Regions from separate parts of the Homo sapiens genome. Here regions 2, 3 and 4 are each linked to region 1. Evidence: fine-mapped expression QTL. A gene starts in region 1. Each other region holds a variant in brackets. All regions are shown on one strand. Distances are from middle to middle.

Region 1 (5,446 bases):
AAGCTTCCTGAGGCCCCACCAGTTAACAGATGCCAGCACTGCTGAGCCAAAATAAACCCGCTGTCTTTGTAAATGACCCAGCCTCAAGTATTTCTTCACAGCAACTCGAGAACAGCTCGGCACGCAGCCCAAGCAGCATATGGCAGAAGCCTACACCAGACTTTTCCCCTCTCCTGCTCATGACCCTCCGCGGCTCCCCGCTGCCATCAGGGTCAGGCCTGGCCCGGGCCACAAGGAAGGTCTGAGGTGGTCACTGCCTGTGCTCTGGCCTCACCATCCTACCACCGTGCACGCTGCAGTGGCTCCAGTCATTCTGACCTACTTAGGGCTTCCCAGATTGTCCAGCTGGCTGGAGGCTCAGGCTTTGCTCATGTGAGTCACTCTCAGGCGTGGCCACCCCATCCCTTCTTACCTGACCCAGCGTTGGTGACAGGTCTCTCCCCACCCATGAGGCCTCCCAAGACTGGAAGTGCCTCAGGGTGGGGCCCCTGAGGCAGGTTAGCAGGGAACCCAAAGCACAGTGCGGTGGCCAGAAGCTGCCCTCCCACCGAGCGGCCTCCTGGCCCTACGGGGACACGGGCTGCAGGATAGGCTCCCTTCCAGGGTCACCCTCACAGCACCAGCCACCCCACCTCTGCTCCGTGCACCGTCAGGGCCCTTAGCATGTACATGTACATGTGCATGCCCACATGTGGGGGCACCTCCCTTTTCCCCAGCACCCCGTTTCTTAACATTTCACCCTGTTACCACTTCACAGAGCAGGGACAGAGACTCCAGGTCCCACGGCGGGCAAGCGCTGCAGCTGAGCTTTGTGCCCAGGCAGGCGGCCGGCTCTGTGGGCTTAAGGCCCTACTCATGGCTTCTTTGGGCCTCTGGGGTGACAATGCAGATGGGCGGCAATCAGCCCACAGCCACAACCCATCAGCCCTCAGACCAACCCAAGAGCTTGACGTCTCCCTACCCAGCCACCCACGGTCCTCACCGCGAGGAGAGGCCATAGGGGGGCGGCCCTGGAGGTCTTGTGCTGGCCCCTGGCATGGCTCACCGCCTGGCCCTGCTCAGCAGGGGGTCGAGGGAGTCCAGCCCCTAGTATCTGGCCAGCTAGTCGGAGGGTGAGTAGTTGGCAATGTTTATTGGGAAACAGCAAACTCTGCTGGGCACCCAGGCCAGCCGGGAGAGCACGGCCCTGGAAGCGGGGCCTGGAGAGGAATCCAGGGCCGTATGGCTGGTCAGGCAGCCAGGGAAGGCCTGGCAGGTGCACGGACCTGAGGCTGCCCAGATAGGAGGAGCCGGGGGTGGTAGAGGCCAGCTGAACGGTGGAGGCTGGCACTGTCCATGGCACAGGAGGTGGCCCTGGTGCTCAGGCCTCCAGGCTGGGGTCATCAGGCGGCAAGTACATGGGCTCGATGTGGGCCCACCCACGGGCCTGCTCATCGGCCCAGGCGAGCAGCTCTGCGGCGCGGTGCAGGAAGATCAGGAGCAGGGTGTGCACGTCGCCCTCGGCTGAGTGGGCTGCGCTTGGCTCTGCCCGGAAGTAGCGGTGGAAGAGGCTGCCGAGGCTGTAACCCTGGCGGCCCCGGGCCCGGGTGCCGTGGCTGTGGGCGCGGTCCAGGCCCCGCAGGGCCGGCAGCGTGTCCAGGCAGACAGTGTCCCGGGGCAGGCGGGCACCCAGGCGCCGCAGCTCGGCACACAGCAGGGGGAAATCATAATCAAAGCCATTGTGGGCCACAAGGCAGATGGGCCCTGCCTGGCGGCTCAGGAAGGCCTGCAGCGTCCGCACCACGGCGCCATCAAAGCCAGCCTTCCGGCATCGCGCCAGGCCCTCACTGCTCAGGCCGGTGATCTCGCTGGCCTTGGCAGTGAAGGGGCGCTCCGGGCACATGCACAGCGTGAGCTTGTCCAGGACCCGGGGCAATACTAGGGCACCAGACTCGTCGTGCTCCGGGTTCTCCAGGGAGGAGCGGTGGACAGCAAAGAGGGACAGCTCGGCAATCTCGGGCTCCACACTGGGGAGCCCAGTGGCTTCCAGGTCCAGGAAGACAAAGGTCTCGGCCCGGGGTGCCTCGGACATGGTGATGTTCCCACGGGGATAGCAAGTCCTCAAACTGTCCGAGCGAGAGGCACAAACCCTGAGGACTGGAGAGAGGGGTTCGCCCGGGCCCTGCTGTGTACCATCCTCCCCCTAGCCAAAGCTCTGACCCTTCTGGGGCTCACTTCCTGCCACCCCCGACCACAGCACCTGTGACCTTTGGCTCTGGGAGCGTCAGCCCCACTCCTGTCACCTACTGAACAGAAAAGGCAGGCCTCAGAGCGCTCTACTGCCTGCCTCCAGCCACAGTCCCCAGCAGGGATTGGGAGAGGCAGAGGCAGCTCAGGGACCGCACCTTGGCGGGGTCCAGCCCCTTCACCGGAATGCCTTGGCTGGGAACCTGGGGCATAGCACACTGGGTCTCCAGCCCTGGAACCAGCTGCCGGGAAGCAGGCAAGCAGCCACCCGAAAGAGCCCATGCAGTGCACCCAGCTCCCGCTGGGCTCGACCTCCCCACCCTTGTCCCTGGCACACAGGTGCTGGTCCCGAGCTGGCCTCTGCCTGCTTGCCCCCAGGCTCCCGGGGAGACTGTCCTTGCCAACCCCACCACACCAGCTTACCTGGGGCGGGCACTGACCGGCTTCCTGGGCTTCTGGGCACCTGTCGCCACACAGGCTGCTCTAGGCGGCCTTTAATCAGCGGCCGCAGCCCGCCCCCAGCTGCCTGTTGGCCAACAATGAGGCCTGGGGCCTCAGGACCTGCGCAGCCGGCTCGCTCGCCACCCCCTCGCTAGCTCACAGCCACTGAGACACACGCCCCGTGTTTACAAATTAGGAAGCAGGCCCCGAGCTCTTCACAGGCACGGGGAGGAAGCCAGAGTGGTGCGGAAGGCAGTAACCTCCACCTAGCCAGGCTGTGGCTGCCAGGCCTGGCAGGCCTGGGGTCAATGCCTCCCCCATGCTGGGGCCAATGCCTCCCCCATGCTGGGGCCAGTTACACAAAGGCAACAGGTCCTCTTTGCCAGGCCTCAGTCTCCCCGTCACTGGAGATCAGGTGCCGCTCGTGGGGATGAAGCGAGCTCTGGAGTGTGACCAAGGTGCCCACACATGCCGTGCTCAGCCTCCAAAGGGGAAGGGGTGCTCCCCCAAAACCTAGGGATGGGGCAGCCTCGGGAGATGCTATCTGCTTTAAGGACGTCGCTTCATCATGTCTACCGTGCACCTAACAGTGGCTGCTGGGGAAGGAAGGGAGGTGGGCCTGGCCCGGGAGCTGTGCAGGCCGCAGCTGAGCTAATGCTTCCTCCACCACAGATAAGCAACGTTAGGGGGTGGGCCAGGAGCGCCGGGACTACAGGAGGAGTGAAGCCCAGCCCCTCGGACCCCAGGCTCAGGGACCTGCCCTGTCTATCCCGCTCCAGGCAAAGGGCACCAGGTCCTTCCCGGTCCTGCGAGCAGTGGCGCCCTGAAGACCTCATTCTGGAGCAAGAGACAACAGCCCTTGATGGTGGGTGCACTGCAGGGCCAGCCCCATGCTGGGGGCACAGAGAGGTGACCAAGAGGAGTCCCTTGGCCTATAAATCAGGTGGTGCACCTGCACCATGGTGACCACAGGCCTGCCCGGCCTCCCACCTCTCACAGTGGTGGCTGGGGGATGCCTCAGGCGACTGGGATGGAGGGGGGTCTGGCACCTGGCTCCTCCTGGCCTCCTTGCCTTGTGTGCCCACAGGGACCTTGGGGAAGCAAAGGAGATGGTGCCAGGAGGGAGCAGGGTGGGGCGGGCAGCAGCAGGTACAATGGCCCCAAGGAGGCAGAGGCCCTACCAGTCACGCCTGTTCCGGTACTCACAGGGAGGGAGGCAGCTGTGACAGGCACACTGCTCAGGGAGATACTGGGTCACCCTGGGAAGCCCAGACAGCATCTTCCTGGACAACCAGTCAGGCTGAATTCCCCAGCCCAGAGCTGAGCGCCCAGCCAGGGAGGAGCAGGAAACTGGTACCCCGCGGGGGATCCAGGGGCACTCAAGGAGGGCGGCTGAGGGGTGCGTCTCGCACAGGACCCTAAGGCCAGCCGGGGGAGGCGACAGTGGGTTCTCTGCTTTCAAGTGGCTGGCAGCAGCAGGGAGGAGTGGAGCCACAGGAAGAGGACGCAGCCCAGGCCCGCCAAGATGACAGGAGGGCCGCCGCCAGCCTGCCCAGACCTGGGCCACCTGAGCAGCTCAGGACAAGGGGAAGGAGAGAGACATAGAGCTGAGGAAGCAGAAAGCAGGCTGGAGGCAACTGCTTAGAAACCAAGGCTTTCTTTGTGTCCAAGTCAAACCGCCCGTCTGTCTCTCCCTCCCCAAAGGGGCCAAAGGTCCCTGCCTAGAGCACAACGTGGGGCTGCAACGGCTTCTGCTGCCACAATCATCCATCCTCGGCCAACTCGATCTTGGGAGAGGGCTTCCTGCCCGCCCCATCCTGTGCTTTGGCGTAGGCCATCACTGAAGACTTTCTATTTCTCCATTAGTTCATTCATCTTGGTAGCTGCAGAGGAAAGAAAAGAAACCAAAAGGATGGTGGGAGTGTAAACTAGTTCCACCATTGTGGAAGTCAGTGTGGCGATTCCTCAGGGATCTAGAACTAGAAATACCATTTGACCCAGCCATCCCATTACTGGGTATATACCCAAAGGACTATAAATCATGCTGCTATACAGACACATGCACACGTATGTTTATTGCAGCACTATTCACAATAGCAAAGACTTGGAACCAACCCAAATGTCCAACACTGATAGACTGGATTAAGAAAATATGGCACATATACACCATGGAATACTACGCGGCCCATAAAAAAAGATGAGTTCATGTCCTTTGTAGGGACATGGATGAAGCTGGAAACCATCATTCTCAGCAAACTATCGCAAGGACAAAAAACCAAACACCGCATGTTCTCACTCATAGGTGGGAACTGAACAATGAGAACACTTGGACACAGGAAGGGGAACATCACACACTGGGGCCTGTTGTGGGGTGGGGGGAGGGAGGAGGGATAGCATTAGGAGATATACCTAATGTAAATGACGAGTTAATGGGTGCAGCACACCAACGTGGCACATGTATACATATGTAACTAACCTGCACGTTGTGCACATGTACCCTAGAACTTAAAGTATAATAAAAATATATATATATAAAATAAATAAATAAAATAAACAAATAAATAAATAGAAAAGAAACCAACAGGAAAGCGAGCCTGGCGCAAGAGGCGAGGTGCCTCCTGCCCACCACTCAAGGCACATGTCCTCAGCTGATCCTCCTTGAGCCCCAGGCACCACCAGGATGGCAGGGAAGGGACAGGCACTGCCGAGCTGGGAGCTGCTCAGGCTCTGTGGGGACCAGGCCAGCAGCTTGGGAGCCCTGGGCTGGGTCACACCGACC
Region 2 (5,500 bases), 49 kb after region 1:
AGCAGCCCCCAACTTCAGGTAAGAGCTGCAAGGTGCATGCATAATGTGTCTCCCCCAAGCAGGGTGTCGCCTCATCGCCACTTCCAAGCCCCCATCCAGGAACATGCCTGGCTGAGACCTGAGGGTGAGGTCGGTGCAGGGCCGGACTGCAGCGCCGCCTGGCTCCCCTGTGTCTCCCCACACCCCCCCGCACGTGTGCTCTTCCTTCCACCGGCAACTTCCCTCTTCCCTACTGGTCTGCTCCAGGTCACCTCCTCCAGGTAGCCCTCCCGAGCCTCTGGCACTGTGCATGGCCCTGCGCCCCCACGGTATTCAGAGCTGTTTCACCCCCACTGGGACTCCTGGAGGCTGAGGCCCTGAGTGACAGCTCCTGGGTTCTCAGTCCCCAAGCAGTGCAGGAAGGTACTGGGTACCAGCACCTCGGGCAGCAGGCATGCCTTGAGTGGGTTTCTCCTTTTTTCTGAAACGGCTTTACTGAGAGTGGCTGTGCTTACCACACGATTTGCGCATTGAGCACGTACAAGGCAAGGGCTTTTATATGGTCTATTCACAGAACTGTGCAACCATCACTCAGTCGATTGTAGAACATTTTCATCACCTCAAAAAGAAAACCCATACCTTTAGGTACCACCCCTCTAGCACCCACTGCCCACAAATCCGCTTTCTGTCCCCACAGATGAGCCTAGTGTGGACATTTCAAATGAATGGAACCAGAGGCTCTGCGGCCTTTTGCGACTGGCTGCTGTCACTGAGCGGAATGTTTCCAAATGCTTCTCTCTCCACCCAGACTGCTAGTCAGGCTTCGCTGCCTGTCCCGCTCTCTACCGACATATTTCTCCACGAATGAGTTGGCAGTGGGGGAGGGAAAGAGGGTGGGACAGAGATGAGACCAGGCTGCCAAGAGTCGGACGCTGAGGCTGGGCAAAAGGTAAAACACACAAACCTGCCGAAAGACAAGCCATCTCCTTTGTCTGGAAAGGGCATATGTGGTCTCCAATCTCCTCATTCCAACCATGAAATCAAGAGAGAACCAGGGTTACCAGCCTGGCCCCTGGTTTCCCACGTCTCTCTTCTCCCTGGCCCAGTCTAGAAGCTTCTTGCAGGCAGGTACCACAGTTTGGTCAAGGTGCCATGCGTCCCAGGTCCTAGCCAGGCCCTGGGCTGCCGCTGGTGAACAGGAAGGGGGTCTGTGCCCTGCCATGCCCCCAGGTAGAGCTCCCCTGGGAGCATCCTCCCTGGCCTGGGACCTCCCAGACCCCACCCCCCGGTTGAGTGATGGCACTGCCAGGGGTTGAAGACCCTCAGCCCTCGACGTTGTCCTCTCTCCATTGGATGCCGCCTCTCTCTAGCCACCCCTCTCTCCCTCTCTGCCCCTTCGAGCTTTTTCTCTCAATATGCAATTTTCTCTTTTGGTCTTCCGCACTCTTGGCCCCCAGTTCTATTGCAGATCTGTTTCTCACTCCATCTAAACTCTTACCCCTGTGTCTCAGGAGCTGCTCTTGCTGAGGGAAGAAGGGGACACTACGGGACAGGGGGGCAGTGTCGTACTAAGGACCTGGGCTCTAGCCACTGGAGGAACTGGACTCATTTGGGCCCTCAGGAAGCGGCTGAGTCTTGGTGGGGTAACCCGGTTAGCCCCCGTAAGTGACCAGCACAGGGCTGAGCCCAGAGGAAGTGGCCACCCACAGAGTGGTTCTCATGTCCGAGGGGACCTGCAGGGATTGAGCAAGAAGACTGACTCGCTGGATCCTTCGTCTCTGAATCAGTTCAGGGCAGGCAAGCTGGGGAGCCCCCTGCCCCGTCCTGCCACCACCAGCCGGATCGGGCCCTCTTTTTAAGGGAAGAAAGTCTGGAGTGGAAGGGAGGGCACAGGGCGCCAGGAGCCTACATGAAGTCCTTCCAGAAATCCACAACAGCTACCTCTCTGATCCTGGAGAAACCACCTCCTTGCTTAGGCCCAAGCAGGTTCCTGGCAGGCTCAGGACCAAATTCCAGGGGCCACTCATGGGCCTAGCAGCCCAAGGCCGCCTCCCCCTCGTCTTTCTTCCATCTCTCTTTCCTCTGCCTGGCGAGATGCCAGCCAGCACCTCAGTGTCCCCATCTGGGCAGTGGAAAGTTTGACTCTCTGGGTCCTTGTTTGAGTGAGTGCGAGTGTGTCCGTTCCTTTGCTGTCTGCCCCAGGCGGGGGAGGGGGGGGGAGGTGGTGGGGGCGAGGGGGCGGGGGCTCAGCTAGTCCAGCCGTCTACAAGAAAATTGCTCCCTTTGAAGCTGCCAGGGGGGCCGGGAAGCCTGCCCCCTCCTGCTCGCCCGCCCTCTCCGCCCCACCAGCCCCCTCCCTCCTTTCCTCCCTCCCCGCCCTCTCCCCGCTGTCCCCTCCCCGTCGGCCCGCCTGCCCAGCCTTTAGCCTCCCGCCCGCCGCCTCTGTCTCCCTCTCTCCACAAACTGCCCAGGAGTGAGTAGCTGCTTTCGGTCCGCCGGACACACCGGACAGATAGACGTGCGGACGGCCCACCACCCCAGCCCGCCAACTAGTCAGCCTGCGCCTGGCGCCTCCCCTCTCCAGGTAGGGCTGGCTTCAAGCTGCCTCCTCAGCAACCCAGAGATGCCCCTGGCTCTGCTGCCTCCGCTGTCCCAAGCCCTGGTCCTGCTGTCCCCAGTGCCGCGAGGGTGTCCACAGATTTCCCCGGTGCTCTCTGTAGGCTGCTGATCCACGCCCCTTCATCGCCACCCTGCGGCCCCCTTGGTCCCTGTCAGGCTTCTGCCTCGTCTCGCCGCCCTCCAGGCACCTTTCCCTCACCCCTTCCTCTCCCTCTCCCTTCTGACCTTGCTCTGCTTCATCCACCTCTTGTCTCTCTGCCTCCC[G/A]CTCGGGGTCCGTCTTCTTGGCTACCACCCTAGAGCGTGGCTGGGTGACTGGTACCCCAGCTTTGCCAATGGCCCTGTTTCATCATTGCAAGTCCCAGGCGCATGCTCCACTCCCTCAGCCTCGCTCTGCCCAGGCGCCTCCTTGCTCCAGGGCTTGGCGCCTGGCCCGGGTTGGGTCGGATCGGGGAGGACCGCCCAGCGCCCACCGAGCTCAGCACCCAGGAGCAGTCCTCCGCTGCACTGCCTGAGGCCAGTCCTTGGCATGGGCTGAAAGACTTAGTTTCCCAGGCACACCCCAGGCACCCTGCCCAGATGTTCCTCGCTCGCTCACCCCCAGGTTAATGCTCTGCCTCTACATCCTCTGTGAGAAGTCTGGGTCCTGGGAGCCCTGGCTGCAAGGGCCCTGACTGGGGGTGCCTGGGTGGCTCAGCCCTGTCTGTTTCCAGGACCCCCTTGGACTGGGACTCAGAATGGGTGTGGAGGGGAAGGAGAGAAAATCAGGCAACTGTGCCATGCTCCCCAGGGCGGACCTGGCTTGGGGTCCCAGAGGGGCCTGCCAAGGGACCCAGGAGAGGGAGCGAGAGAGTGCCCTGGAAGGCCCACGGAGGGGAGCGCCCCCTCACTGCTCCATGGGCGGGGCTGGGTGCCTGAGCGCCTGCTGAGCAGAGCAGGGGGCCCAGGGATCTGCAGGGCACAGGGTACATCAGTCTCCAGTGGTCTGTCTTGGTGGGCAGGCCTCTCTCCTGCTGTCCTGGCTGCCAGACTGCTCAGGTCCCATCCTCAGGGGGTCCTGTTTCTGGGCCCTCGCCCCTCCCTGGCCTGCCAGCTCTCTGCCCTATAGCAACTAATTGGAACTGAGACAAGCTGGAGATGCTCAGCCCCCCTGCCCCCGTGCCAGAAAGGCTCCCGGGGACCAGCGCCCAGGGGTGCGGGTGAGCACCTCCTGGTGACACCCAGCCGCCGGTGCCAGCCGCACCCCAGGAGAGCTGGTGTATGAGCATGGATGTCTTGGTGCGGAGCATGCCCATGTATGGCCACTGTGGGCCAGCATGGTGAGCCTTTGAGGGCAAGCCCGTGTGGGTATATTGAAAGGAAGATGCAGGGCTGCCTCCAAGCCACCAGGGCTGGGCGGTGGGAGCAGGTTGCGAGCCAGGGAGCAGAGAGGGCTCCCATGGCAAGCTGGCCAGCTGTGGGTGGCAGCCCTGGCCTCCCTGGCCCACCTTCAAGCCCCAAGGACCCGTACGGCAGTGGGCATTAACCCTACCAACGCATAGATGGGGAGTCTGGGAAAGGAAGGGGGGTGTTTCCAAGGCAAGAATGAGTTTCCTGTCTTTAGCAACATTCCAGAGTCACTCAAACAAAGCTATAGCGTGTCCCTTCCAGTGACAGCGCCAAGTCCCCAGAGGAGGGGTTTGTAATGAGTTCACACTTGACAGTTAGCACTCAGAGCCTTCAGCAAGGGCTTCTGAGTCCTTGCCACCCCGTATAGAGGTGGGATGAGGACCTCCCCACCTGCCGTCTCCTGTGCTTCCCGGGCCCACCCCCCACCCCCCACCCCCCAGCATCTCCAGCCTGCCCGGGAGTCACATGTCCTCGGCCCACAGAATCCCCAGCACACGCCCCACCCACAGGCCTAGCCCCAGCCCTGGGGTCCCTGGCACCCCACCTGCCAGGGCCCCTCCCCTGCCTTGCTCACCCCCCAACACCCCTGCTTGTCGGAAATGTCTTCCCATGCCCACCACGACCCCCTCCCACTCATCTGTGGGCCGGAGAGCTTGGTCCCTGCCGCACGTTGCCCCCCTAGCATCCAGGCCCACCACCGAGCCCCCGACAGGCCTGGGAGCCCCACTGGTGGGTGGGGACCCACCAGCTGGGGGTCTTGCTCACACCGAGGGGCTGGGGGTGGCGGTGGCTTTCCCAGGGCACCCTGCCTTGGGCTGCAGGCCGCTGGGTGGGCACCGGCTCCCTCGGAAGGCAGCGCAACCCGGGATCCTGCCGGCCCTGGCCCCCACCCTGCCGACCGGGCCTGGGGCGATCAGTGCCCCAGCTCCTGTCCTCTTCTGCTCAGATGCTGGGTTGGGAGATCAGGGGCCACAGCTCGGCCACTCAGAGCCCTTTCCGCAAGTCTTAGAGGGACCAGCTGTGGGGTGTGTGCAGAGGGGCTGCGCTGTGGGGAGGGCGCATGGCTCAGTCCTCCTGGCCTGAGGCCCGCCTAGCCTAAGTGGCCTCCAGGACCCATGGCCAGGCCCTTCTGCAGCCTTCCAGAAAGAACCAGCTTCCCAGGGTTCCCTGGGGAAGGCCTGGGGCCACCTCCTCTGGAGGGGTGGGGCCTGTGCTTCATTCCTCCTTCCCCAGGTCCCCTTCCAGGCCAGAAGATCCCCTCCACCACTTGAATCCCACAGCCAGAAGCCCCTTCTGGGACTCTAGACTCCTGGGAACCATCCCAGCTGCCCCCTTCGCTGTTTCGCTGTTTGCCTTCTTCCCCTGCCCCGTCATGGCTCTAGGTCAGAGCAGCCTCTGGGGTGGCTATGGAGGGGCCACCAGCCTTGGCTCTTCCGAGGACTGCAGAACCCTCCCACTCCCAGCTTCCCACCTGCGCAGCTCTGATCCCAGCCAGCCCAAGGGGCAGGGTCAGGTC
Region 3 (5,461 bases), 130 kb after region 1:
GTGGCCAGGGATGGGCCTTGTCAGTCTGCAGCGTCACCCGCCCTGTGTAAGGCTCAGAACTGCTCATCCACGCAAGTCGGGAGCCCGGGCCAAGCCCACAGCACTCAGCATGTCTCCTCTGGGCAGCTGGTAACAAACTGCCCGGGACAGCCTCTCTAAGGATGCGTACTTGAGCTAAGTTCAGAGGAAGGAGAAAGGCCAGCCAGGCAGCAGAAAGGGCAGGGGTCATGGCTCCGGGGAGCCCCTGCGTGGGGTGTTCAGAAACAGCTCCAGCCGGCTGGGCATTGCAAAGTGGGCAAAGAGCTATGGGGAGGGCCGAAGCCAGCACAGGAGGCTGGTGCAAAGCCGTGTGGGCCCCAGACATTCAGCCCCGTCCACTGAGCCCCTGCTGGGTGCAGCGAGCCAGACAGACAGACCCCTGCCCCAGGGGGATTACCTTCCAGTGAAAGGTGGATGGATGTAGGGGGCACTTGAAGGAAGGAGCAGAAGTGGGCACCATGCTGCTGGGGAAGACAAGAGTGAGGGGAGCCTTCCTGGTGTGGGGTGCAGCCACAGCAAAGGTCCCCAGGTGGGATGTGCCGGAGGCTGAGGGGTAAAAGAGGGCAGAGTGAGAAAGACTGGGGCCGGCTCCGAGGGCCACAGCCAGTGGAGGGCTTGTAGCGGGGGAGACCAAGACACGCTCTGGTTTTCGGGCCGCCGTGCTAAGGGCATGGAGGGGTGGGGGCGAAGTGCAGGTTCTGGATGGCGTTTGAAGGGAGCCACGGGGCTGGGGCCGGGGGGGTTGGGCCTGCTAAGTTTGAGACCCAGCTTAGATGCCCAAGTCTGGAGCCGGAGCCGAGAGGCTGTTAGCCGACAGGTGGAATGGAAGGCCGAGAGCCAGAAGAGAGTACCTAGACCCAGAGGAGGGGCCCTCGGGTGTCAGGGATGGGAGAGGAGGAGGGGCTGGAGCAGTGTCGGACAGCGCTGGGGGACTGTGAGGAGTAAAGGACTGTGGCCTCTCAGGGCCATCAGCCATGATGGGGAACGGAGAAGTGTGGCAGAGGGAGACAGCAGGAGGACACAAGGAGGTGGGGACACACAGTGGGGAGCCACCTCGCCTCACCCGGATGAGATGGGGAGTCCTCCAGCCCAACCTGACCCTCCTAGGGGCATCTCTCCCGGAAGAGTGCTTTCATTTCCTTTCTTTTTAAATTGTCACAGTAAAACGGGCTTTTGGGGGTACAGTTCAATGAATTTCCACACAGTCAGGACACGGGCCAGTTCCATCGCCTACTGGAAGGTTTAGAGCCAGATGGGGGACCAAGAGTCTGACTTGGCAGCCAGAGAGAGCTCGGAAACTCCACCTAGAGAAGGGACAGGAAGGATGGAGGGCTTTGCTGGTGGGGGTTGGGGTCCCAATGTGACCCCAGGGCCCCAGGCAGGACATAGCAGCAGCAATGGAGGTGAGGAGAGGCTCAGATGTGGAAGATGCTTTTGAGTTAGGGTAGGGCCCACAGGACACGTGGATGTCTGGTACATAGGGTCAGGGGGTCAAAGTGCCTCTGAGGTTTGGCCAGAGCCCTGCACTGGGATGGGAAGGCTGCTGGTGGGCAGAGTTCAGCTGGAGCACTGATAAGAGTCCTCCTCGGGCCTCCTGCAATTTGAGAGGTCCCTTAGGCATCCGAGGGGGAACACCCGGGAGGCAGCCAGGGCAGAAGTCTGGCAGTCCAGGAAAAGGTGGACATGGTGCAGCTGGTATCTGCAGTATTTACGGTGGCCTGATGGTCTATAGACAGCATTGACAGCCCTGGGGGCCATGAGATTCCTTTGGGAGCAGTAGGGGGCGTGGCGCGTCCTGGGCTGAGAGCAGAGCAGGAGGCGGTGCAGGAGCCTGAGATGAGGACAGAGTGAACCCAGGCTGGTGGAAGGAGGGCATCCTTGAGCACCCAGGTAGGAGTGCAGCCCTCTGGGATGGGCCTCTCTTAGAAACGTTTGTTGCTTTCCATTGAACCAATCTCCCAGGAATCGACTGCATCCTTCAGTGTTGGGTGGGCTGAAAACACCCCACCTTAACACCAACACCAAAACATTGTTTAATGGCCCAGGATTAGGATGCAGGGAAAATAGAGCCTGGAGAAAGCTGACTCACTGTCAGCTGTAACAGACTCACCAGGACTCCAGCCAAGCTTAGCACCCCCAAACAGCAGAATGTTGGGGGGCAGCCCTTCCATCCTGCAGCGGTTCACTCAGTCACTTGTGCATTCCCCAAGTGTCTGCTGAGCAGCTGCTCTGGGCCAGGCTCTGTTGTTAAGCCACAAACAAGGCAGATGCCATCCGGGAGGGGCACGCTGGAGTAGCCGGTGAGACCGGAGGAGCAGTAGCAGCAGAAGCCCAGCCTGGAAGGAAGGGCTGGCTCCGTGGCCTGGCTGTCCTTTATGGAGGTCTTTGGAGTTGAGCCAGGTGCAGTGAGACCTGTGCATAGGTTTGAGCAGGGGCCTGGCCTGATCACATGCCCCCAGGTCTGAATGAGGCCACCAGCTCAGCGAGATCTCACCCCACACAGCCCTGGGGTCAAGGCCTGCAGCACTTTGTCCTTTTTGTGACTTGATGGGCAACAGCTTTAGCAGGCGATGTCCCAGGCGGCTTCCACACCACAATCCTGTACCAGAAAAGGCCTAAATAATGAGGCAACATCTGCATTGGCTACGAAAACTGAATTCTGTTTCTTTTCATTAAAAACGTCAAATTATTCTCAATTTCTGTGTTACCCCTAATTCAGAAACCAGTCTGGGGATAAAGGCCTGAGTGAGAATA[G/A]CTGACCATCTGCCGTCTGGCAGATGTGGCTTTCCCGAATGCAGAGAAAATCCGAACCAGATTTCAGATGGGGTGCTAGAAAATTCCAATGTGGAGCTTTTTGGCTTACTTTTTTTTATTATTATTTTAAATAGGAACGGGGAGTATCACTCTGTTGCCCAGGTTGGTCTCGAACACCTGAGCTCAAGCGATCAGCCCGCCTCGGCCTCCCAAAGTGCTGGAATTACAGCCGTGGACCACCAAACCTGGCCCTGGCTCACTTTTTGCACTGGAGAGGTGATGAGGTTGGCATCATTTCAGCTGATTCCGAAGCACTGTGCTTTGCCTAGCTGAGCCCCTGGAGGGCTGAAAGAAAGTCACCGAAAAAAGGTGATTAATTGTCTAAACGACAGAGCCAGAGAGGAAATATTTTTAGCTTTCCAGGCCTGGTCTCTGCTGCCGTGACACAACTGTGCCCTTACAGCATGAAACTTAAACCAGTAAAATTTTATTAACCAAAACTAGCAGAGAGCTGGGGTTAGCCCCTCAGCAAGCCCTGACACCTTGTCTAAACCCAGAAAACCAAATCCTAGGTCGAACCTTGGCCCCAGAAATGCTTCAGAACTCCTAATGTGTCCACCTGCTCACATAGGCAGGGGTGGACAGGTGTTGGATGAACCCCAGGGTCTGCCTGGCAGCTCAGCGCTCCGTCTGCTGCCCCCTATAGGGATGGCAGTACAAGGTGGGCCAGCTACCATTGGCGGCTGTGCTGACACTGGCCTGTGCGAGGCCAGGCAGAGGCCTCCCCATCAACTCCTGGCTTCTAGAAGCAGGAGGGGGCCCAGGCTGAGGGGCCAGGGAGCAAAGAGAGGCAGCAAGGACTTGAGTGCGTGAGGCAAGGTGGAGAAGCCAGAGGAGGGAAGGGCTCGCTCCTGGAGCAGTGCCCTGCCGGAGGGTCAGGGGGCTTAAGGGCTGCCGTGCGCTCAGCTGGGGGCAGAGGGCCACTGTGCCGGGGGAGTCTGGGGCACAGCGGGAGCTCTTTCATGCGGGAAGTTCCGCTGATCTGAGGTCTGCAAACTCCTGTGGGGAGGGATGGCCAGGGAACAACACAGAGCGGAGCCCGGGAGGCAGCAGAGACGCAAGTTTTGGAATGTCTGACTGGAAGATGGAGGAGGAGACGGGAGAGAGGACAGGCGGAGTGAGGTCAGAAGAGCAGGGGCACCAGATTGAACCAGACCCAGTCAGACACGGGGGCTGTGAGGAGGCCACAGGGGCATCTGAGCAGAGACAGGCTTTAGTGGGTGCAAATCAAAAGTGTGGCCATTTTCGGTCTCAGATACCTCCAGCTGGGGACTGCTGGGCTCTCTGGCCTGGAGCTCTGAGTACAGGCCTGGGCCACAGTTTCTGGTTATAGCCAGATGGGCCCCAGCACTGTGGCCAGGGTGGAGAGGTATGGACAGAGAGGAGGAGGGACAGAGCCAGGCCAGAGCTCTGGGGCACCCAGGGACAGAAGAGAGGGCAGTGGAGGAGATGGGGCCAGGGCAGCTGGTGAGGTGGAAGAGGGCCAGGCAGGGGCAATGTCAGGAAGCCATGAGAAGCTTCCAGAAAGAGGGATGATCTTCTGTGTTGAGTGCCCTGAGGGATCAAATCAGACGAAGATGCAGAAGTGGCCAGTGGAGTTAGCCGCAGGGAGACCCTCGACATGGCAGGTCCCGGCTCCAGCCATGGGAGCTGGGGGATGGAGGGAGACCCATGCGAGAAAGGCCGGCAGTGCCCATAGGCTGGGAACTTGCTCATACCAGCAGGTACTTCGGACTTTCTGGTAAGATCGAGAAGACATCCCACTCACCAGCATTCTCTCCTTTTCAAATCATCTTTCTTTTCTACCAAATTGGAATTCAGATTGGGCAGAGACCCCAGAGGTCACCAAAGCCACTCGTCTCCCCAGGACAGGGAACTGCGGGGTCACAGCCAAGAGCCTAGTGCAGCACTCTCAAGTTCCAGAATACCTGCCCAGCTCAGCCTAGAGAAAGACACTGCCATCTTTTCCTGCATGCGGATCGGTTGACGAGACCAAGGCCCACACCTGAAAACTCTTTCCAAAGGCAGGCAGAGCCATCCCATTCCGTAGCAGCCCTCCAACAAATGGGTGGACATTTCTCATGCCATGACCCCCAGCCATTGACGTGGGTGGAATTTACCAGCACCAGCCGGCCACTGACTGTCTCCTTCCTTCCTTCCTACCTTCCTTCCACGTTTCCTTTCCTTTCCCTTCCTTTCCTCCCTCCCTGCTCCCACCTCGCGCCCTGTCCCTCCACCTCCCACTCCAGATCCGGGTGGTGAAAGCGTTCCGTAGCTCGCTCTATGAAGGCCTGGAGAAACCAGAATCCAAGACCTCCATTCACAACTTCATGGCCACGCCCGAGTTTCTGATCAATGACTACACCCACAACATCCCGCTCATTGACGACACGGACGTGGACGAGAACGAGGAGCGCCTCCGGGCCCCCCCGCCCCCGTCCCCCAACCAGAACAACAACGCCATAGACAGCGGCATCTACCTGACCACGCATGTCACCAAGTCAGCTACCTCTTCAGTGTTTTCCTCCAGTCCCGGGAGCCCGCTCCACAGCGTGGAGACGTCCCTCTAACAAGAACTTGTCTCAGCACATGCGCACACGCACACTCG
Region 4 (5,442 bases), 24 kb after region 1:
CATACTAAAGAGCCGGAAATGACAGCAGGCCAAGAGTGCACCCACAGGTTGAGGGCTCCAGCAGGGGCAGGGTGTGCTCAAAGGCTGTGGGCATCCAGAGGGAAGCGGAATACATTCTGCCCTGGGAACAGGAAACATTTTAAAAGGAGACAGGACGTGTGAGTTGGGTCTTTGCGGGCTGTACAGGAGGACGTACGACATGCAGAGACTAGAAGGCCATTTCCAGGAGGGGGAACAATGTGAGCAAGAGCAAAAGGTTATGAAGCGAGGAGCTGCTGTGCTGAGCCCTGGGGAGAGGCCTGAGGAAGGGCCTAGAAGGCAGAGGCAGGAGACGCCTCTGGAACAGCAAGGGCTCAAACACAAAAACGCCTCCTCCTTCCTCTGGGGGCCTGTATCCAGCTGGGCGTCCTGCTGATGTCTCTGGTCCTGGCGGGCCAGACCGGCTGGATGCAGGTTGGCTCCCCACTGCTCTACTGCCAGGCTCCCGCCCAGGCCCCTTCCTCAAGCAGCAAGGGTAGGCAGGCCGCAGGCTGAGGAGGGGGAGGCCCGGGCCTGGACTCACGAGAGGCTCCTGTACCAACAGACTACAGCTGTTCCTGAGCATGGCCTGGGCACACACCCAATCCCACAGGAGCCTGTGCTCTGTGGGAGGCGGGGAAAGCCTTCTCCACTCACAGCTGTGAGGCAGTGAGACAGACCCTCAGCTCAGGGACTACGTCACCAGGGGAAGGATGTCTGCCCTGGGAATGGGACACTCTGGATCATTTCCTCCACCATCACTCAGGAAGTCACCCTGTCACCATGGGCTTCATAGGGTGCCAGGCACACACCATGCTACACCCTGGCCCAAAGGCACCAGAGGACTGGGAAACGGGTCACGGCACAGAAGCTGACAAGAGGTGACACTGCATGAGGACCACTTGGCCAGCTGAGACCCAGCCAGGAGCCCACGCCCTGGCCCTGCCTGTCACTCCTCCACTGGGAGACCAGAGACTGTTCATGCCTCCAGCCTGACCCTTGGCTTCCGGGTCTGAGAAGGAAAGGACTGGAATGGAGCATTTCTCAGGTGCCTGCCAGTCCTGAACCTCCAAACTCATAAGGCAAGGCAAACGCTGAGGGCAAGTTCAGCACTGCAGCAAAGGGGTGGCTGGACTAGCCCAGCACCGCCAGGGGCCACTTTGCCCCAAGTTTGATCATGCCTGTCACCAGTACTCCTTACCTACACAGCTGTTCTCACGAGGGTCCAGGCTAGGGGGTGGAGCCCTCTGGGAAGACAGCTACTCACAGTAACCACAAACCCCATCTTCCCCAGGTGGGGCTGGCTGGCGCCCATGCACACCCCAGGTGGGAAGAGGAAGAAACTGATGCATTACCGGGTACACATCCACTCTAGGATCTCCAAGCGGTACTCTGAGGGGCTGCACAGCAGTTCCTGAATTGTCTTTGGCTCTGTGATATACAGACCCTCGAGGAAGGGGCAGTTTAGGTCCTAAGCAAGGAAAAGGAAAGCAACATTCACTGAAAGTCCCAGTGTACATCATTTCATTTTATTTATTTATTTATTTTTGAGACGGAGTCTCACTCTGTCGCCCAGCCTGGATGGAGTGCAGTGGCATGATCTCGGCTCACTGCAGCCTCCACCTCCTGGGTTCCAGCAATTCTCCTGCCTCAGCTCCCAGGGTAGCTGGGGGATTACAGGCATGCGCCACCACGCCCGGACAATTTTTGTATTTTTAATAGAGACGGAGTTTCACCATGTTGGCCAGGCTGGTGTCAAACTCCTGACCTCAGGTATCTGCCCACCTCAGCCTCCCAAAGTGGTGGGATTACAGGCGTGGGCCGCCGCGCCCAGTCCTCAGTGTACATCTGCAAGCTCCCAGGACCCTTTCCTTTACCCGCGTCCTGCCATCTTGCCAAGAGTTCAAGTCCCCCCATTCTTAACCCCACATCTCCCGCGGCATGCAGACCCCACCTCTTTCAAGTACTCCCACTCTGGGCTCTTGTGGCAGCAGGACCTAGGAGCAACGCCTGAGACTAAGACTTAAGAGAGAGTCCTAGGTTTCGGGACTGAGGGAAAGGGGAGAGGGAAAGGGAGAGGGACCACTGAGCCAGTCGCGGACAGGATGGGGGAGTGTCTGGGGGGAGGAGCGAGCGGGCCGAGGGGACCTGGGACAGCTCCCTAACCTCGTGGGCCAGCTTTCCTCACTGCTGCAGTGAGGGCTCTGTCCTGTGGGGCTGTAGAGGGCTTCTGGAGGCTATCACCCCTGGCATCTGACACCAACTGACACCAAGCCCTAGTCTCGCTGACTTGACAGAGTGGCACGAGGCTCTGCCCATCTGTCCCCCCAGACCCCGCAAGATCCCTAAGGCCAGGCCTGGGTCCTCTGTGTCTGCACTTGCTCCGAGCGCCCAGCGCGGGTACTGCAGTTCCACAGGCGGTGCTGGCCCCAACTACCAGGCACGGGCCGTGGAGACAGCAAGAACGAAGGCCTGGGGCACACCAAAGGGCAAAGATGAATGATCCACAAGCACCCCCTGCTGCAAGGGAACAGGGCGCAGCCGGAACCGGCGACGGTGGCCGCGTGGCGCCGCGGACTTCCGCAGCAAGCCCTCCCGGGCCTCGGGCGGGGCCCTCCCCGGTCCCCCGCCCTGGAGTGGCTTTCTGGGCCAACAGCACCTTCAGCTTCCCGAACACCTCCACAGCCGCCCTGGACACGCTGCTGTCGCC[C/T]TCGTCCTCTGAGTAGTCGTCGCCGCCACGGCCGCAGCCAGCGTCCTGCCCCGCCATGTTTCGCGCTCCGAGCCGCGCCCCGCCCATGCCCTGGCTTCACTGGCCGGCAAGACCGCCAATCAACCTCCAGCGTTCTTCCCGCCCACCCGCCTGCGCCCACCCCCTTCCCGACCGACCCTTCCCATTGGGCGACATCTCCGCCTGCGCGGGCCCCGGGCTCCCACCCCCCGCCCCGGCACCACCCAGAGGCAGGACCACAGTGAAGCGGGCAGGGCGGACACAGGGAAGGGGGCGGGGCGGACACAGGGAAGGGGGCGGGGCGGACACCGGGAAGGAGGCGGGGCGGACACCGGGAAAGGGGCGGGGCGGACACCGGGAAGGGGCGGGGCGAACGGGCCAAGCTGGCTCTGAGTCGCAGGCCTTGCTGGCGTCGCCCCTGCTGCCGGCCGGGAATGATGATGCGTTGAAGCGAGGCTCTTCCAGGAGGGGGCGCTCCTGCCTTGGTCGGGTTCTCCTGGGCCACCACCACTAAGGGGCACCCTGGTTCCCAGGAGGACCAAGGGGAGCCTTGGGTGCAGAATGGAACTCGGACTGAAGCGTTCCTCTCCCAGCGCGGGGCTCCGTCTTCTCTTCACCATGCTCACGCTGTAGTTAGAAGGAAATTTCTTGTCACTCACCAGCTGTGTGCCTTTGAACCAGTTACCTAACCTCTCTGTGCCTCTTTGCCCTCACCTAATGGAGCTAATGAGAGCACCTTACCCACTGGGTTGCTAATGAGGATGGCAGGCGGTAATAATTCCTGTGGAATCCCTAGAACAGTGCCCGGCGCATGCGAAGAACCACGTAAATGCTCACTATTGTAATACATGCTGGGCCCTGCTCCCCTCACGGCTCCTGGGGCTACCTGTGGCTCCTTCCTATCCTGTCTACTTAACAAATTTTTCTACATCCCTCAGGACCCTCAAACTCAATGCGTCTGCAATGAAATATGTCAGTCGCTCCTCCCCCAGACCTGCAAAGCCCCCAGTTCACTGAATGCCCCTTACCCAGGGACCTGCTGATTGGGCAAGGCAGGAAGGAGTTGGAGGGTGGCTTGTGCCCAGTAGCCAGGAGACAGCAGCAGGCAGCTGCCACTGTGCCCTCCTCTGTGCCCTACCCTGCCATCTCCTGGAGGGTGGGATCAGGGGGCAAGTCTATAGTCAGGGAGACCCAGGGACCTGCTGGGAGGCAACTGCAGTCATCCAAGTGACAGGAGGGGACTTCACTCCGTCCTGGGAGGAGGGAGCGGGCAGGAGTCCGGGGGTCACAGGAAGGGACCTCAGCCTGGGAGGCCCCGACACAGGCCCAGCGAAGTGCCTCAAGGTTGCTCTCTACCCTTCCACGTGGCTGCTGCCTCAGGCCCTTCTGGTAGCTGAGGGCTGTCAAAGGCTTTGGGATTTTTTTTTAAGCGTTTTTTTCCCTCTTTTTTGTTTTTGTTTTTCTTTCTTTCTTTTTAGAAAATTTCATCTCAATCACAGCCCCAGCTCAGACATTCAAATTCTTGTGGGTTTTTCTGTGGATCTTTCCTAGGACTGGGGAATTTGGCGGAAGAAACCACGGCAGTGTGGCAGCCTCCCCCAACCCTCCCCATATTCTCTGCTCCTGAGGACCGGGAAGAAACCAGCTCCTGTGTACTCTGGAAGAAAATCTCCCTCCTCCACCCAGCTCCACGGAGCCAGTGTGCTCAACAGGCCTCCCCAACCTCAGCAGTTCAGTCTATGGGACCCTGAGGAACTGGCAGGGCCTTGAGAGGCGAAGATCATCTTGAGAGGTTATGGAGGCCATCCCCCTCATGGAGAACCTGTTGGCCAGCCCTCAGCCCCTGGAGATGGTCGCTGAAGACCCAGCAGCAGGCTGCAGCTTCCCTGCCCACGCCACCCCACCACCCACCACCCACCACCCACCACCTGCCACCCACCACCCGCCCCCAGAATCATAGCACCTCCCAGGCATCTTCCTCCGGAAAAGCTGGAGGCTGGGGAGGGAACAGAGAGGCTGCTGGGCCTCTCAGGAAGGGGGAAAGAAGGGGCCCAGAGGTAGAAGCTTCTGGAAATGTGGACTCAAGCTCAGTCCAAGAAAGCACTCCTCCCAGAAATCACTGTCTGAACACCAGCTGGCTGCCAGGAGAGGAAGGGAGCTCCCGGTCCTAGAAGGTCTACAAGCCCAGGGAGGTGGGTGGGCGGGGATGTGGAGGGTTGAGTCCTACCATGGGGGAGGGAGGGGGCACATCTCTAAGGGACATTCCAACCCAGAGACCCCAGGTTCTCTGAGGGAGGCCTGGGTGGGTCAGGAGCCAAAAATGTGGCTGAAGGACCCATTGACCTGGAGGAGGGATGTTGGGGGGAAGCTGTGGATGTGGCGGGGAAGCTGGGGGGTCCTGGTCATGGAGGAAAGTTGGCCATGCGTCCCAGCAGGGCCTCAGCCGTGTCAGTGCTTGGAAAACACGTTGGAAAATGAGACTGGTTCACGGCACTGGCCCCGCTGTGCCAGAGATGGGCTGGCGGGTGCTGGTGGCATTCGAGACCTCTCAGTTTGTGTGGTGGGCCCAGAGATATATGGCCAAACAGTTGAGCTCACCAAGTGGGCAGCCTCCCTGACCTGTGGAGGGTATTGAAAAAGTCCTCAGAGCATCCGGGCCCTGCTCTTCATATGACCTTAAGGGCAGACCCCACGGT

Direction of the effects. Positions count from the first base shown, and alleles are read on the strand shown. Sizes are in standard deviations (SD) of each study's normalised expression. Not every link is listed here.
For the expression in sun-exposed skin of the gene that starts at base 2,697 in region 1, allele A in region 3 goes with a higher level than allele G (small effect, 0.20 SD a copy in GTEx).

The links.
Region 2: its variant is fine-mapped to the expression of TREX2 in fibroblasts (GTEx, PIP above 0.99). The same link has a PIP of 0.9 or more in visceral fat.
Region 3: its variant is fine-mapped to the expression of TREX2 in sun-exposed skin (GTEx, PIP 0.96).
Region 4: its variant is fine-mapped to the expression of TREX2 in whole blood (TOPMed, PIP above 0.99).

What each region holds. Positions count from the first base shown.
Region 1 is chrX:153,443,360-153,448,805 of GRCh38, forward strand. It overlaps TREX2 (three prime repair exonuclease 2), which reads right to left and starts at 2,697. Exons shown (of 2, transcript NM_080701.4): 1 at 2,650-2,697; 2 at 1,114-2,136. The coding sequence starts at 2,071. The coding sequence ends at 1,361. It overlaps HAUS7 (HAUS augmin like complex subunit 7), which reads right to left. Exons shown (of 10, transcript NM_001385482.1): 10 at 4,309-4,550. The coding sequence ends at 4,519.
Region 2 is chrX:153,492,551-153,498,050 of GRCh38, forward strand. BGN (biglycan) reads left to right here and starts at 2,430. Exons shown (of 8, transcript NM_001711.6): 1 at 2,430-2,563. It also overlaps a transcript of HAUS7 not described here. The variant G/A (reference allele first, on the strand shown) is at 2,863.
Region 3 is chrX:153,574,876-153,580,336 of GRCh38, forward strand. ATP2B3 (ATPase plasma membrane Ca2+ transporting 3) reads left to right here. Exons shown (of 22, transcript NM_001001344.3): 22 at 5,103-5,461. The coding sequence ends at 5,423. Among named protein-coding and RNA genes, the nearest start is that of CCNQ, 22 kb to the right of the region's middle. The variant G/A (reference allele first, on the strand shown) is at 2,794.
Region 4 is chrX:153,467,773-153,473,214 of GRCh38, forward strand. It overlaps HAUS7 (HAUS augmin like complex subunit 7), which reads right to left and starts at 2,804. Exons shown (of 10, transcript NM_001385482.1): 1 at 2,678-2,804; 2 at 1,374-1,489. The coding sequence starts at 2,785. RefSeq lists enhancers at 2,096-2,275, 2,426-2,525, 3,039-3,333 and a silencer at 2,856-3,165. The variant C/T (reference allele first, on the strand shown) is at 2,729.